Regions from separate parts of the Homo sapiens genome. Here all the other regions are linked to region 4. The links come from fine-mapping of genetic effects on gene expression. A gene starts in region 4. Each other region holds a variant in brackets. All regions are shown on one strand. Distances are from middle to middle.

Region 1 (4,000 bases), 83 kb before region 4:
AAAATCAGCAGCACAGTTCATCGTCTTGCAGTGTTTTATGGAGTCTAGATGTATTCTTGGAAGGGTTCCTCTCACCTATATTTCTGTAGTAGGTCCATTCATTATTTCAAACATAATTTTAATTTCTAATCTGGGCAAAATCCTAAATTGAAGGGGCAAAAATAGACTGGTAAATAATACAGATTTTATTCCTGCCTCTATAAAGTTTATATTCTGAGACCTTACAGACATCTAACAACTAATACACAGTTATGTAATCATGATTCTAGTAAGTTCAGAGTACTAAGAGTCCAGACTAGGAGGACCTGCCTTAGACTGAGAAACTGACATTTAAGCCAAGAATAAATGTTTCCTTGCAAGTATGTAATAATTAATAGCTTGATACTTAATAATCTTTTAACAAAGTAGTGAAAAACAAAAGCTATAACATGAAGTAGTAAAATAAATCAGTTATTCTTGGCTTAAATGGGTTGAGGCCAGTGAGATGCCGTGATGCTGGGGCCCAAGCTCCAAGTGCCTGGATTTCCATAAGCCACCTTGGGTTAATCTAATGATCCTCAGTAAATCTCATAAAAATATCCCCAAGAGCTGGGCTTTCATAAGCTGTAATTTATTAATCCTTAGCATGCTCACTATAGGCAGTAATGATTATATCCACCAAGCATTTTGTAGGAAGTTAGTTTTAAAAAGAAGTGTCCAGGCGCAGTGGCTCACACCTGTAATTCCAACACTTCGGAAGGCCAAGGCAGGTGGATCACTTGAGGTCAGGAGTTCCAGACCAGCCTGGCCAAAATGGTTAAACCCCATCTCTACTAAAAATGCAAAAATTAGCCGGGTGTGGTGGCACATGCCTGTAGTCCCAGCTTCTTGGGAGGCTGAGGTGGGAGAATCACTTGAACCCTGGAAGCAGAGGCAATGAGCTGAGGTACGCCACTGCACTCCAGCCTGGGTGACAGAGCAAGACTCTGTCTCTGTAAATAAATAATAGATAGATAGATAGAAGTGAGTCACATGTTCATGTCAGTCCTTGTCTCTAGCTCAATTACAATATAAAGCATATTTTACTATAATTTTTTTTTTTTTTTTTTGAGATGGAGTTTCACTGTTGTTGCCCAGGCTGGAGTGCAATGGTGCAATCTCGGCTCACTGCAACCTCTGCCTCCTGGGTTCAAGTGATTCTCCTGCCTCAGCCTCCTGAGTAGCTGGGATTACAGGTGCCTGCCACCATGCGCAGCTAATTTTTGTGTTTTTAGTAGAAATGGGGTTTCACCATGTTGGCCAGGCTGGTCTTGAACTCCTGAGCTCAGGTGATCCACCCACCTCGGCCTCCCAAAGTGCTGGGATTACAGGTGTGAGTCACCGTGCCTGGACTTTTACTTTATTTACTTTGTCCATCTGTCCCTTTTTGGATTTTGAAGTATCTGAGAGTTGGAACCTATCTGAATCTTCCTATTATGTGAATACCAAATTTATAAAATGTTAGACATTTTTTATAGAAATGA[T/C]ATTTTTAAAAGTTATTATCCTTTGTTATAATAAAGAAGTCGTTCTTCAAAAGACTCTAGTACTTCTCAAATTTAATATGCAGACAAATTCCCTAGGGATTAAGATGTGGCTTCTGATTCTGTAGGTCTGGGGTGGGGCTCAACAGTTTGCATTTCTGTCAAGCTCCCAGGTGATGCCCATGCTGCTGGAACCCGGGCCACAGTTTGAGGAGCACTATTATAGGGGGAACATTCCTTTGGCTGAGATGCTGGGGCTCATGTCTAAACCAGAATTAACTCACTGCCCTGTTATCCACAGTAGACAAGCCAGCTGCCAGCAAACTGTGGAAGAGCACGCAAAGTACACAAGCATTGAACAAATGCACAGATTTAAAAAGACACCACTTAACTCTTGTTTCTGTCTTAGGAAACAAATAGGCCCAGTTTCTGATAAATGCATCCATGGTTACCAGGTATGTGACCCTGCTCAGAAGACCTAGAAAGTACCAAGTCTGTAGTTGCAAGGTGATTACACAGCATTTGCATTTGGGCAGCCGGGTGGAAGGATGATTCAGAATGAGATACTTGCTTTTGTTCGCAAAACAGATGCGATGTGCCCCTTGTTCCATTTCCTTTCTCCCTGTCTCTCACCTGTGTTACCACACCCTGGTGTACCGGATCACAGCTGCTAGTGATGCCTGCTAATCATGTTTGTTGGCTCTGAGATGAGTGAGATTAAAATTATCTTAACCTGTCAGATTAGATAAAGCTGCCTCTAGAAGTCTGACTAAAATGTATCGGACAAAAGTTGTAGGGTTTTTGTTATGGAAAATCAGCAGTCTTTAGGGCATCCTTGTATGTTTTCTAATACAGATGTGCCTAGATTTGCATTCTGCTTTGAACTGTCCTATCATTTAAAGATTTTTCTAAAGAGAGGATATTGGTAACACCATACATAGATTTTTCTGATGACGTTAAAACATTTGCCTGACCTTAAAATGTTGAACTGTGCATTTGGGAAAAGGTGGTTAAGATTTCTAGACCGCTGAATTTAAAAATTCAGCTACGGACTTCTACATGGCATTTAATTTATTTTTAATCCACAATTTTGGACTAAATGATAAACCTTTGTAGTCACATAATGAGGTCAGTGGCCCTGGAAGTTTTATGACCTGTGTTGTCCCCTCTGGAGCCAAGGTTCTTGTTGAGTGTTTCAGGATTTGCCAATTTAACAGGCACTGTTGATTCACCAGTTCTGCTTCAGTGCCTTTTCTCTTCCTTGCTTGTTTTCTGTACACCCCGTGCTTCCCAGCCTTCCTGTGGCACACAGCTGATGGGCTGATGATGTTTGTAGGGTACCTGAGGGTAAACAGAAACGGCCTTTTGTGGCCAAAGGCAGCCAGCCAGGGACTTTGAGGGATCAGCAGCTCTGACTCCTGTTTCCCAGGCTCATGCAGGTCGGATTTGGAAGTTCTACTTTACAACTACGATTTAGGCCTCTGTGGAATTAGATTTCTTTACTGCATTATGGGTAGCTGTTAGTCATTTTAAGTGGAATTGCTTCAGTTAAAGAAGGTGTTATAATGTCCAGGTTCTCAAATTGGATAAATGTGTAGAGTTTTATTATTAATATCCTTTATAACCTACACATATATTTTTTTTTTGGTAGTATACTTCATAATAAAAATTAAAAGTAAAGAGTATTTAGAAAGAAAAGATCTAAGCACAGTTCTCATTCTTGCCCCCAGTTGTATTACTAATATTTTAGCATTAAAAGAATAATAGGAAAAAGAGGGGGGAAGGAACATCTATTACACCAATCCCCTAATGCAATTACTATTATTTTATTTACTTTCTTGTAATATAAATGTTAATTAATGTTTATGTTCTTAGTTATAATCACAATGTATGTAGCTGTATATATTACACAGTGTACTGAAGTTGTCTTTATAGACATTAGTTTTAATTGCTGAATCATATTCCATGAGTAGTTAGTATTAATATACTAACCATTCCTGTATGGTAGAATATAAGTCGTTTAAATTTTTCTGCTGTTACAGAATATCTTCAAGATTCTTGCATTCATTCCATAAATAATTTGCCTATGTGTAAGGCATTCTGCTACATGTTAGCATCATAATGGTGAGCAAAAGGCCATAATCTCTGTTCTTGTGGAATTTAGCATCTAATTCCTGATTGTATTTTGCACATTAATTGTAAGAGTTTTTTAAAAACCTGTTCATTTTGAGAGAATTTCCATGCAGTTGTAAGAAATAATACAGACAGATCCCACATATGCTTCATCTGTTTTCCCCTAATGGTAGTACCTTACATAACTAAAATGTATTGCCCCAACCAGGAGATTGACATTGGACCAATCCACCAACCTTACTCAGATTTCACCAGTTTTATATGTATTCCCTTTTCTGTGTGTATGTGTATATGTATATGCACTTTTGGTTTTTATGCAACTTTATCACATGGGTAGATTGGTGTGACTACCACCATAGTCAAGATGC
Region 2 (4,000 bases), 53 kb after region 4:
GGAGCCTGGTCAGCCCAGTGAATGTCTGCAGAAAGGGGCAGCACCTGTTTGCTTGCCTCATAAGTACATGGGAAGTCAATGTAATGGCAGCATTTCAATTTCAATTCATCGGAAAAGGGCCAATTTGCTTAATAGTGTTAATATAATAGAGTCTACATTTGGAAGAAGTGACATTAGATCCTCTGACTTATCTCCTTCTTTACCCGCAAAATTCTAAAGATTAAAAATGTATATTTTCTAAACCTCCACTAAAATAGAAGAAAATATAGGAGCATATTTATGTAATTTGGAGGACATGGATGGGAACTCAGAAGGCAAGGAGGAAAAGATACATATAGTATACTCTAAATAAAAAGGGTATGGTAAAACATGCCATCAGCAAAGTCAAAATCAGAAAATAGACTCTAAAACCATTTACTATTTATAGACGACAAAAGGTTTATATCCCTTTTAAGTAGAGAGCTACAGTGTCATGATAAGAAAAACAAATGAACAACTTAATAAAAATTGGACATCATGCAGAAGAGAAACTATACATGGCTGATAAACGTAGGAAAAGATGGCCAGCTTTATAAAAAGGTCTAGGAAATGTAAATTATAATAGCCGTGAGAGTCCATGTTTCTCTCATTGTGTAGAGTCAGTGCTAGTGAGGATGTGGGGAAACAGGTGTGTTTAAGCACTGCTGCTGGTAACATGAATTTCTATTATCTAATTGATAGTAATTGGGCAATATTGAAATTTAAAATGCCCATGCCCTTTGGCCCAACATATCTCACTTTTGGGAATCTGTACCGTTAAAATAAATCCCCCAGTAAATAAATATATAGATATAAGCCTATGTATTACTATGAAACATAGTGGCAAAAAACCCTGGAAATATATTTGAATGCTTATCAGTAAGGGAATTATTGAATAAATTATGCGTATGTATGTACATATGGGATGTTGAACATATTGAAAAGGATGTTAGATATCCATGTATCAGCCTGGAGGGAGAGATTTATTAATAATTTTTAAAAGTTGCAGATTGTTAAATATATTTAATATGATTACATTTTAGTTTTTGTTCATTTTTAAAAAAGACAGAATACCTCTCTGTGATCTCTGTTTATATGAGAGAAAGGTGTTGAAAGGCACATACCAGGCTGTGTGTTAACATTGGGTCCTCAAGGGGGAGATCATTATGCTTTTCATTTTGCATCTCTTTACCACGTTACCATTTTGACTTCCCACAACCAATATATGTTTATAAGTTAAAACTTATACAATCAACAATTTAGAGAAAATTAACTTGGATCTGTATTTTCTTTGCTATTTCCAACTTTATCCTGTTTCTCAGACTTGTGACTTGTGGGAAGGAGAGGGTTTGAAATGTAAATTCTGCTAATCTGAGAATTCCTTAATGTATACCTAATTTTGGTGTCACCCTAATAGTGAATTCTGTGTCAGTAGAGCTTTGTTAGAACTGCAGATTTAGAGCTACAGTAAACACTTAATTTTACATTTTATTCCTTATATGAACTTTCTGTATGTTACATGGGCAATTAATAGGTTGTCTTAAGACACTCAGATGGGAGAGATTGCATTTCAGAACCTCAAAGCCTAATGTCAGTCAAAAATACACCTAAGATTTTGTTACTTAGGGTTTTATTCTATTCAGTCTTTAATTCGACCATTTGTGTTAGAATTCATT[A/C]ATAGTACTCATGTCAGCAAGGGAGGTGGTTGTATTTCTAATTACAAATTCTCAGTATAATCTTCATTCCTTCTCAGGAGATTATTTGGTAGCAATTGAAGAGAAAAACAAAGCTACATTTCTACGTGCTTATGTGAACTGGAGAAATAAAAGGACTGAAAACTCTCGTGTGTGTATCCGAATGATTGGGCATAATGTGGAGGGACCATTCAGCAAAGCCTTCAGAGACCAGATGTACATTATTGAAATGCCGCTTTCGGAGGCCCCCTTGTGCATTTCCTGTTGCCCTGTGAAAGGAGACCTTCTCGTTGGCTGCACAAATAAATTAGTCTTATTTAGTTTGAAGTACCAGATCATTAATGAGGAATTCTCACTATTGGACTTTGAACGTTCTTTAATTATACACATAGATAATATCACTCCTGTTGAGGTTTCTTTTTGTGTTGGATATGTTGCTGTCATGTCAGACTTAGAAGTCTTAATCGTAAAACTGGAGTCAGGCCCTAAAAATGGAGAGAGAGTTCACCACCATCCACATAAGACCAACAATCGAATAAGACGGACAGAAGAAGGTAAATAATGAATTTGACTTGCTTTCTTGTTTTAGGAATATAGAAAACCTTCACCTTTGGCAGTCTGAAGGTCTGTGGTATATATGGTGCCCGGCCATGTTATTTATAGATTTAGTTATTCCTATTTCATGGGATTTGGTTTTATGATCTGGCTGTCCATAGCTTACTCTGTAGCATGTGAATATATTTATCAGTAGAAGTAATGGAACAACCACTGCTAGATGAGGGGCTTCTAGTCCTAGTCCTCATAGTTACTAGTTGAATGACCTTGGGTTAATAATACCATCTCTGAGTTTCAACATCCTCATTTGTAAAATGGGGATGATAATACCTACCCTGTTGTACTTTATCAGTTGTGGAGATTAAATGAGCAAGTGCTAAGTCTTTTCACAACCACAGTGCCTTGTAAATGTGTGCATATTATAAATAAATGAAATTACTATATGTCTAATTGGTGAGAGGATGTTGTAAAATCTAATTTTCATTCAAGCAGGACTGTTACATTTTATTTTTTTAAGGCATCAGTAATGAAATTTCACAGCTTGAGTCAGATGATTTTGTCATCTGCCAGAAGCCCCTGGAACTTCTTGGTGAAAAAAGTGAACAGTCTGGATTATCTGTTACACTGGAGTCTACGGGATTAGCTGATGAAAAAAGAAAATATTCCCACTTTCAGCACCTGCTCTATAGGTATTATAGTGCTTTTTTTTTTTTTACCAGCATTTTATGTATATATGCCTGCTTAAAGTACATGGAAGTTATATTTTTCCCTTTCTCTGTCTTTTTAAACCCACAGACGTTTTGCTCCTGATATTTCGTCCTATGTCTTGTCTGATGACATCAAGCTACATTCCCTCCAGCTGCTACCCATTTACCAGACCGGTAAGCATGACAGTGCAGGAGTGCGACAGTGCAGCAAGGTGAAAATGCTCTGTCTGGGCTGGGAGTGAAGACCCATGTGGGTAATAGGTTTGGTGGTTTGGTTCTTCCACTGGAGTCTCCTTGTGGCCCTTTAACAAAGTTTTTTTTTTTGTTTTTTTTTTTTTTTTTTTTTGAGACTGAGTCTCGCTTTATTGCCAGTCTGGAGTGCAGTGGTGCGATCTCGGCTCACTGCAACTTCTACTTCCTGGGTTCAAGTGATTCTCCTGCCTCAGCCTCCCGAGTAGCTGGGACTACAGGCGCCCGCCACCAAGCCCGGCTAAATTTTTTTGTATTTTTAGCAGAGACGGGGTTTCACCATGTTGGGCAGGATGGTCTCGATCTCCTGACTTTGTGATCTGCCTGTGTTGGCCTCCCAAAGTGCTAGGATTACAGGCATGAGCCACCACACCCGACCTCTATTTTATTATTATTTATTATTTTTTTTCTTGAGACAGAGTTTTGCTCTTGTTGTCCAGGCTGGAGTGCAATGGTATGATCTTGGCTCACTGCAACCTCCACCTCCCGGGTTCAAGTGATTCTCCTGCCTCAGACTCCCGAGTAGCTGGGATTACAGGAATGCCCCACCACGCCCAGCTAATTTTGTATTTTTAGTAGAGATGGGGTTTCTCCATGTTGGTCAGGCTGGTCTCGAACTCCCGACCTCATTGATCCGCCCACCTCGGCCTCCCAAAGTGCTGGGATTACAGGTGTGAGCCACCACACCCGGCCCAAAATCCTTAGCAAATACCTATGAGTACTAGAAAGGGAAGTCATACCTGCTAGGAGAAGCCATGGAGAAGGCATGACAGACTG
Region 3 (4,840 bases), 120 kb before region 4:
ACCCACCTTCAGGCTAGCAGCAAAACATGTTTGCAACCTTCCTCAGCACAGCCAAGGCATGAAAGAAGAGGAGAAAAGCTAGCACCCACTTGGTGGCAAAGGAAGGAAGGTGGGGGTGGGAGGCTCTAGGAAGAAGCCAAAGGTCCAATAGTGAGTTAAGCAGCTTTGCCAAAGATGAGCTCTGCAGCAGCTTGCCTTTACCCCAGCATGGAGAGTGGAGGAAGGGACCAACCACACAGCGATCCTCTGGAAAGACCTCCAAGCAACAACTTTGTCCCTATCCCATCTACTTCTATTCTACCCTCCCATCAGGCCCCCGTTATGACTTTCATGGGTCCTAGGCACTTTTGCCTTCACGGGTGACTTCCTCCCTAAATATATAAAATATTTTATGGCTATGCTGGTATAAAGACAAATACTATTCAGGCTAGATCATATTCATTTTTTCCTTATGATTTTAAAAGATATTTTCTTAGGTCCCTGAAAATATCATGGGCCTTAGATCCTGGCCTATTGAGCCTAAAGGCTAAAGCTGGCCCTACCTCCAGCTGGGTGGTGCTTGGCTTCAACACTGGATGAAAGCTCTCATTACTTAGCAGCTGATGTTTTTCACTGTAAATATGGCAAATCACTCGCCATGTTGGGAGGTAACCGTAATATTGTGGACATAGCATGGGCTGAAGTCAGACTGCAAAAGTTCAAATCCCAGTTCTGCCATTTATAATTTAAGTGACTTTAGGCAAATCATTTAACTTCTCTGTGGCTTGATTTCCACAACCATGAAACAAGAATGATAATAGTACCTACTTGAGAATTGCTATGATGATTAAATGAGTTAATACATGTAAAATGCTTACAATGGTACCTAGAAATAGTAGAAAATAGATGTTAGCTATTTCTGTGTTCTGTAGTTTCCCCACGACTGATTGACTTTATGGTTTTGGATATTGATAAAATTATTGAGTTAACACATAAGTACTCTTGAAGAGCTGACCCTTCTGAGGTCTTGAAGGCAATAACTTCATTGTGATTTCCCAAAGATAACCTAGTTGCACAAAATTCAACAGACGGATGAAAGTCCATGCAGGCTTGCCTCAGCTAGCTTTTAGTTGTATCTTACATTCTTCCTGTTAGCTTCCTGAGTGCCCCCATTTGTCTATAAAAGAAATTCAAAGTGAAGACTTGAGCATAAAACCTTGTCCAGGGGGCGGGGGGCGGTGGCTCACGCCTGTAATCCCAGCACTTTGGCAGGCTGAGGCAGGCGGATCACTTGAGGTCAGGAGTTGGGAGGCTGAGGTGGGTGGATCACTTGAGGTCAGGAATTCAAGACCAGCCCAGCCAACATGGCAAAGCCCATCTCTACTAAAAATACAAAAATAAGCCCAGCGTGGTGGCATGCACCTATAGTCCCATCTACTCAGGAGGCGAAGGTGGGAAAATCGCTTGAATCCAGGAGGCGGAGGTTGCAGTGAGCTGAGGTTGCATTGCACCATTGCACTCCAGCCTGGGTGACAGAGTGAGACTCTACCTCAAACAAACAAACAAAACTTGTTCCAGGGATTCTAAAGAAATGTGCTCTTTCAATAAATATGCTTTGCATTCATCAATAAAGTGCCTAGCAGCTTTCAAAGCTCAAACATTATATAATGAGATAACACACTCAAAGCATCCAAAGACAAGAGAGAATGTTAGAAAACTTCATGACACTGGGAGGCCCCAGAGTGTCAATCTTCCCTATTGTACTAGAATAATTATCACTAATGATCTGTTATGATCCACAGAATTGCAAGGCGGAAGAGCCTCTCCATTCATTCTTATTGGCTGAAGACACTAAGGCCGAGAAAATTCAGTTGTTTCCTCAAGGTCACGTAGATTAGTCTCCTGTTTTCCTCTGTGGCTACCCCAGCCATTTCTGTTATCATTTTTTTTTAATATTGTTTATACTGAGTTCTTTAAATCAAATCTATATCTTTCATGCTAGAATTGTTACAGCTAAAGATGGTTAGAGACTTTTGTGCAGATTTTAAATTTCTTTTGGTGGAAAAACAAAACAGTGGTCGAAAAAGTACTTGTTGAGCCAGGCATGGTGGCTCACGCCTATAATTCCAGCACTTCGGGAGGCCAAGGTGGGTGGATCACCTGAGGTTGGGAGTTCGAGACCAGCCTGACCAACATGGAGAAACCCC[G/A]TCTCTACTAAAAATACAAAATTAGCTGGGTGTGGTGGTGGGCGCCTGTAATCCCAGCTACTCGGGGCTGGGGGCTGAGGCAGCAGAATTGCTTGAACCCAGGAGGCGGAGGTTGCGGTGAGCTGAGATCGCGCCATTGCACTCCAGCCTGGGCAACAAGAGCAAAACTCCGTCTCAAAAAACAAAAACAAAACAAATAAAAAAGTACTTGTTGAATGAATGAAAATTCTTTAAGCTTTTCTGTCCTTTTTTCTTTTTTTAAGACAGGGTCTTACATTCCCACCCAGGCTGGAATGCAGTGGTGCAAACACAGTTCACTGCAGCCTCAACCTCCTGGGATCAACCAATCCTCAAATAGCTGAGACTAGAGGAGTGTGGAGTGTGTCACCACACCACCATGCCACCACCCCTCGGCTAATTTTTTTTTTTTTTAAGATATGGGGGTCTCGCTATGTTGCCCAGGCTGGTCTTCAACTCCTAAGCTCAAGCAATCTGCCCACCTTGGCCTCCCAAAGTGCTAGGGTTGCAGGCTTGAGCCACTGCACCCAGCCTAAGCATTTATTTTGTACCCTCTGTGATCTCATTGTTGAATTCCTCATCGTTTTATAAAGTAGAAGGAGGAAATGGAGACTCTCTTCTATTATCATGTTCTTGCTGTACATATAATCCAAATGGTTCATAACCACATATGGTTGATGTGTTGAGAAGGCATGACATATTCATATTTCTAAATGTTTAAAAGATTATTTTAAAATGAGTGTTGTTTGATTTCAAAAGACTTGATGAAAATGTATCTAAAGACACATGATTTGGTGATTCCTGAAGACAAGAATAAGGGAGGCCATATGGAATCTCTGGCTAAGCTGAGCCTACTTTCCTTGCTGTTTCTACACAGTGTACTTTTAACTGCTCCAAACTGCAAAGAAACAAAAAACAAAACACTTATTCTCATCTAATCAAGAGGAAATGGCATAATTTTAAATCTCTTACATCAGCTAAGAACAAATGCATTTTTCAAGAGACATATTTCCTATTTACAGTTCCCATTCCAAAAAAAAATCAGCAAATATCCCTCGTGCATTTGCAAAATATTGTAAAATTACTAATTCCTCCCAATAGCATTGACAGCCCGTTAATAGCAAAGGTGCTAAAGAAAGAGGCATATTACAGAATTTTATGTAACTCAAGTTCTAGTCTGTTATTGAGTCCAGTGAGCCATGCTGCATTCCTAATGTTCACATAGATGTCTGAATCTTTCTTTGGGCCAAAATAAACCTATTGGTTGCATCTGAAATAGCTGTTTTGTTAAAATTTGGAGTCATTTATAAACCAAATGGTTATTTCCTTATAGCAAAAGAACAAAACCCATTCCTAACCTATGCTCATATATGATATTCAGTTCTATGGGCCCAAATGCAATTCCTGAACATAAGCCATGTCAGCACTGAGTGGTTAATACAGGCTAATATATTGGCTTTTTTTAACTGGACTATTAAGTCCATTAACATTTAATGAAACAATTTTAACTGTATCCACAAAACACTCACAATGCCTTTCCATCAACTCCCTAAAGGCAAAACAACATAAATTTAAGAGAAAAATAACTACGAAGATTTAGTAAGTGCAAATGATTTCTGTAGAACAGGTTAAGTCTCAAATTTCTGTCTCAATACAGTCCACATTTGATTTTTACTACAAAGATAAGCCCAAACCCTACCAAATAATCTCAGCATGAAGACATTGGCATTCCTCTAGCTACAATGTAATATATATAGAATTAACACATAATTTCACAAAGAGTCTTAGAAATCCATTGCAAAATTATGCGGTAAAACATTTTCTTTTAAAATATCATGTTAATCCTTTTCCCTTTATAGAAGTCTCAAAGTAAAATTATATTCATTTTGCCTTGAATGATTAAGATCTAGAAACCAAAGTCCTTTACAGAGATTCGACTGTCATATTGCCACAGAGAGACATATACGGAACACAAATAAATCAAATTGTTCATTCATTTGTGCTTTATTGATTGTTACCTTCAACACATACATATACTAGTTTAAGCTTATGTTTGTTCTGAACCTTAAATCTGAATCTTTTTATAAATACATTTTTTCCAAGGCCTATTTTGAAACTTCTGAAGTAGAGAGAAGTAACATTGGCCCCCTTATTAAGATTTTAGAAAAGAAACTAACATATTCTTATTCATGTTTCTTAGTAGATGCCACTATCTGGACAATTCTATAGATCTAACAACTCTACATTCACTCCACCCAAATTTGATCCCTTTGAAAATAGCTCCTCTCTCCTCAATAAAAAAAAATAAAAAAAGCTACTAACAGCCCCCCTCAATTAAAAAAAAAGCAACAAAAACATGGACTTATAGCAATATTTTGGTAAACTTATTTAATAACCTAATGATTAAAAAAAGAAGTCATATATTTTTTAACACCTGTCTTGAAAGACCTCAAATGGCAGCTTCAGGGATTTGAATACCTTTGAGAAACCTGAACATCTAAAGGAGTTAGTGGGACTGATTAGGTCAAAGCTCAGAACATTTGACGTGGCAGTTGTAGAAGTTGTAAATGTACCACAGTAGGAAACAGCTTTCCATGGACTTCAAAGCAAATGACAGTTAATTATCTAGCTTTCAG
Region 4 (4,840 bases):
AAGATTCCACAAAACGATCTCCTTTTTGCAACAAATCGATGACATGAACAAGGCGCTGGGGTGTGGGGGTGGGGTGCTACCCATAATAACCAAACATAACGCACTGAGGCCAAGCATATTGGCTCATTCCTGTAATCCCAACACTCTGGGAGGCTGAGGTGGGAGGGTCACTTAAGGTATTTGTTATTTTTTGCGTACAAATATTTAACTAACTTAAAGTAAAATAAAGATTAACCGCACACATCACCTGCGAATTCTCTTATTTTCTAGGTTAACGCCAGAAATATAATCAAAATTTAATTATCTACTATTATACTCACTACTCCCGTGTAATAGCGTAGTCCAACCACATGACCTCTCAAACTTCCAAATAAAACGGAATCTACTTCTTCATCACTAGTTAGAAAGTCATCTGGAGGGATAACATCTTGGAATTCAAAACGTGGAAAGAAAGTTGGATATGAGAGGCGTGGAAAATTTCCATGAACTCCATACTGGACAGTCTGCAAGTACTTCCAAACTGGATCCCTATTTTTTTTTAAAGGCAAAGAAAAACAATATAATATTTAAGTATTTCCAAAGACCATATGAGTAGTTTTCTCATGCTTTACTTCAGCAAATGAAATCTTACATGGGAATCACGGTAAAGATTAATAGTTACTCTCGTTAAAGCAGGAATTGCAGTGAGTGGAGAAGGCTTCTAGGAACTCTACCTGTTTTCAATATTGGCTCTTCTACCTGCCCCCTAGGTATTCAAAATGAAAAGCCTAGTCAGAGTTCACTAACCTCTTTCCCAGTGAAAATCATCTAAATTGATATGTATATGATGTCTGTAACTACAATTATGGGCCGGATGCGGTGGCTCACGCCTGGAATCCCAGCACTTTGGGAGGCAGAGGCAGGTGGATCACCTGAGGTCAGGAATTTGAGACCAACCTGGCCAACATTGTGAAACCCTGTCTACTACAAATACAAAAATTAGCCAGGCGTGGTGGCGCCCATATGTAATCCCAGCTACTCGGGAGGCTGAGGCAGGAGAATCACTTGAACCCGGGAGGCGTAGGTTGCAGCGAGCCGAGATTGTGCCACTGCACTCCAGCCTGGACGACAGAGCGAGACTCCATGTCAAAAAAATAATTTAAAAAATGAAATCATATGCCAAAATTTCAATAGGGATTGAGCTATATAAAAGACTTATAAAAATACAACTATTAATGTACCAGAAGTTGTTTATAATTTTCCAGAAAATACATCCAGCATCCATCACTGTAACTCCCTGCGAGCAGAACACCTATTCTGGTATCCAAACCACGCCACCGTGGGAAATTGGCCCCAAGCCACCCGTACCCGCCTTCCGTCGCCGGTTTAAGCATAACCCCAAACCCATTAGGTGTAACTGTTTCGGGAATGACCATAAATACCAATTTGGACAATGAAAAGTGAAGGGGAGTCTACTGGAGCATTGCAAAAAGTTTCCATTCTCCTAAGAACAGTCGCTTATTTGCGATGCGTTTTCCTTGCAAGTGGCGCATATCTCTACTAGCGCCTCTGCAAATACTTATCTGCACGTCTGTGCATACAGATAAGCTGTGAGCCACTTGGGGACAAGGACTGTCTTACTCGGCCCTCCACCGAGCACAATGCCTGGCGCACAGTGGGTATCTAATGGATGTTTTGTTAAATAAAGCACTGGCCGAGATGCTTTAAGCCCCAGGCCCCCCACAGTCGGTGACAGAGATTTCCCAAGTCCCTAACACGGGACTCGCCCTAGGAGCCCCTACTCGCCAGCGAAGACAATGCATTTATTTCTCCGGCGGCCACATATGCGACCAACAGAACGAATACAGCTGCACAAATCGCCCAGGGAACGCAGAGGAACGCGGGGAAGGTCAGGTTCATTTGGGGACGCCTCCAGGCCGTTAGACCGAGCGCCCCACCCCCTCCGCCCCCTTCACCTCTTGAACATCCAGGACATGGCGCTGAGTGGGATGACAAGAGGAGCGCCTCGGCTCCCCTGGATCGTTTTCGAGCCGCCTCGATACGCCTCCTTCCAGGCCCCGCAGCCCTGAAGCCGGGGACAAATTCCGAGCGCCGGATCAGGAGCGCACGACTGAAAGGTAAGTCGCCGCGAGTCCAGTCAGACGTCGACGCCGTCTCCTTCTGCAACAATCTGGGAGACCAGCGTCGCTCTGTGACTGGCACTAGGAAAGCCCAATCACGAAGAGGAGAGTGCGGAGCCAAACCAGTCAGAGCACAGAAGGGAGGGCAACTCCGCCCCGCTGCCATTCAAAGACGGCGGGGGGTCCGGGCTGCAAGGGTGGTTCCATCCGGGTTCTTCCCCGCCCCCAAGGCGGGCGCGCGGGAAAGCCACGAGGCCCCAGGAGTGCGACTGCGGTGCCTGCGGTGCCGGTGTTTTGTTTGATTCCCTGCCTCAAACGGAGGGAAACGACCTTCCTTTATCCTACGAGTCCTAAGACTGAACCCCATTCTAAAGGCTCTACCGTATCCTTCCTCTTATTTTCTTCTCATCTAATGTGGCACATAATAGGGCCTTATACTAAAGGAGCTCCACGGTTTACGAGACCTAGAGCTACCGGCGAGATACTTTACTTCATTCCCTGTGGTGAACCGTGGGGACTTTCGCTCCAAATTTTCATGTTAAGCCTCAGCGTATGCATGAGACACAACGAGTTTGGAAAATCTTAAATGGAACTTAGAGTCCCCTCCCCACCTCTTTTTGTTATTTTTAAGGAAAATTTTCCTTTCTTGGTGCAGGAAACCCATCACATGTTTATTACAGCTATGGGGGCGTTTGCCTGAAATGGTGGACGGGACCATTTTCCCCGTGGGCACTTGGCTGCTCCAGCCAAGAGGGGGAGGCCCTTGTTTTCCTCAAGGAACTGCAGAGGGGCGCTCTGAGGCCCTCCATGGCTCTCTTTCCAGAGTCTGAGGTGACCGGAAGGAGAATGCGGCCCTGGGACCGTCAACCTTGGACCAGCTGCAGCCGACGCCTGGCAGGGCTGGTCGCTTTGCGTTGAGGAGGCTGCTGTCCCCGAAGCTGGCCTTTTAATCGCACAGGGCAGGAAGCTGGTGGTGGCGCCCAGCTGCACAGGCGGCACCATGTAACTGCCAGATAATACTTGCGCGTCACAGAGAGGTCCATGTTACACGCCTGTCAGCACAATAATATTAGGTGGTCAGCTTTTCTTTTTTCTTTTTTTTGTTTTTTTTTCTTTTTTATTGAGATGGAGTCTTGCTCTGTCCCCCAGGCTGGAGTGCAATGGGGGTGATCTTGGCTCACTGCAACCTCCGCCTCCCGGATTCAAGCGATTCTCCTGCCTCAGCCTCCGGAGTAGCCGGGATTGCAGGAGCCCGCCACCACGCCCAGCTAATTTTTGTATTTTTAGTAGAGACGGGGTTTCACCATATTGGCCAGGCTGGTCTTGAACTCCTGACCTCAGGTGATCCGCCCGCCTCGGCCTCCCAGAGTGCTGGGATTACAGGCATGAGCCACCGTGCCAGGCCGGTAGTCAGCTTTTCAAGACACATTTGTTCATTATCGTAAATAAACTGTAGTGATCTCTAATCATGAACCATGGATGAGCAATAGAATTTGAAACAATGTATTATTTCATTTGACCAAAGTTGATGAGGAAGATAAAGACAATGGCATTTCAAATTATTTTAATTGTTGTATGTTCTTCTTGAAGTGTGTTGAGGCAAATGGCAATACAGTTCAGCTTTTAGTATGCCAGATTTTAAATAAATTCTTGGAAAATATGCCAGAAATTGCTCAAATTGATGTTTTGTAAGAGTAAGAAAGTCATGCTCACTAGACAAAGAAAAAATTCCAAATATGAGAACATAGCTCTTTCAGACTTAAGACTGGCCAGGCGCAATGGCTCACACCTATAATCCCAGCACTTTGGGAGGCCGAGTTGGGTGGATCACCTGAGGTCAGGAGTTCGAGACCAGCCTGGCCAACATGGTGAAAGCCTGACTCTACTAAGAAAATACAAAAATTAAGCAGACGTGGTGGCACGCACCTGTAGTCCTAGCTACTTGGGAGGCTGAGGCAGGAGAATCGCTTGAACCAGGGAGACATGGGTTGCAGTGAGCCGAGATCAAGCCACTGCACTCCAGCCTGAGCAACAGAGCGAGACTCCATCTCAAAAAAATAAAAAGACTTAAGATCTATGAATAATGACTGTCCCATGGTTAAAGAATGTGCTTTGAATGAACTAAAATTTGCTATTTAAAGGAATGGTATGGAAAGGAAAGGAATCCAAAATTTCTCCATCCAGCCACTTCCCAGTCACAAACACACTTCTCATCTGCACCCCCAGCCACACACACACACATGCCCGCGCGCGCGCACACACACACACACACACACACACACACAGAACCTTTATGCAAATTAATCATGTCATGTCACTCCCCTGTTTGATTCAGTGAGCCTGAAATCCAAGAATGGCATATGTGGCTCTTCCTCCCACAGTATGTTTTCTCTATGTTATCAATATTTCACATCCCAGAACCAGGAGTAAAACATTCTTTCCCTTAATCATTCTTTGTTTTATATTTAAAGATCAAGTACAATTTGTACTAGTTTGATTAAAATGTTACAGCAATTACAATTTCAAAACTATTATACTAAATAATGTTTTCTGAAAAATTAACTTTTTTGGTTTTTTCTTGATTTATTCTGATAACAGCATCACAAGTAGATATGAAAAATGAACACTTGTAACTGGAAAATGAACTGTAGGGTGGCTTGTGGGGTTTGGCTGGTGAGTAAGAAGGAAAGTGGCACTAAAAGGACGGTGGGGAAGATAAG

What was found. PIP is the estimated chance that this variant, and not a neighbour inherited with it, causes the effect.
Region 1: its variant is the best candidate, but not a certain one, in a credible set for the expression of HLTF in lung (TOPMed, PIP 0.51).
Region 2: its variant is the best candidate, but not a certain one, in a credible set for the expression of HLTF in whole blood (INTERVAL, PIP 0.59).
Region 3: its variant is the best candidate, but not a certain one, in a credible set for the expression of HLTF in subcutaneous fat (GTEx, PIP 0.85).

The regions. Positions count from the first base shown.
Region 1 is chr3:149,002,045-149,006,044 of GRCh38, forward strand. The region is part of intron 4 of GYG1 (glycogenin 1); the gene reads left to right. Among named protein-coding and RNA genes, the nearest start is that of GYG1, 13 kb to the left of the region's middle. The variant T/C (reference allele first, on the strand shown) is at 1,503.
Region 2 is chr3:149,138,233-149,142,232 of GRCh38, forward strand. HPS3 (HPS3 biogenesis of lysosomal organelles complex 2 subunit 1) reads left to right here. Exons shown (of 17, transcript NM_032383.5): 2 at 1,772-2,266; 3 at 2,785-2,956; 4 at 3,063-3,148. Among named protein-coding and RNA genes, the nearest start is that of HPS3, 11 kb to the left of the region's middle. The variant A/C (reference allele first, on the strand shown) is at 1,695.
Region 3 is chr3:148,965,538-148,970,377 of GRCh38, forward strand. No RefSeq gene overlaps it. Among named protein-coding and RNA genes, the nearest start is that of GYG1, 24 kb to the right of the region's middle. The variant G/A (reference allele first, on the strand shown) is at 2,187.
Region 4 is chr3:149,084,362-149,089,201 of GRCh38, forward strand. It overlaps HLTF (helicase like transcription factor), which reads right to left and starts at 2,172. Exons shown (of 25, transcript NM_003071.4): 1 at 1,956-2,172; 2 at 321-528. The coding sequence starts at 1,975. HLTF-AS1 (HLTF antisense RNA 1) reads left to right here and starts at 1,971. Exons shown (of 3, transcript NR_046648.1): 1 at 1,971-2,117. RefSeq lists enhancers at 1,499-2,016, 1,922-2,131, 2,017-2,534.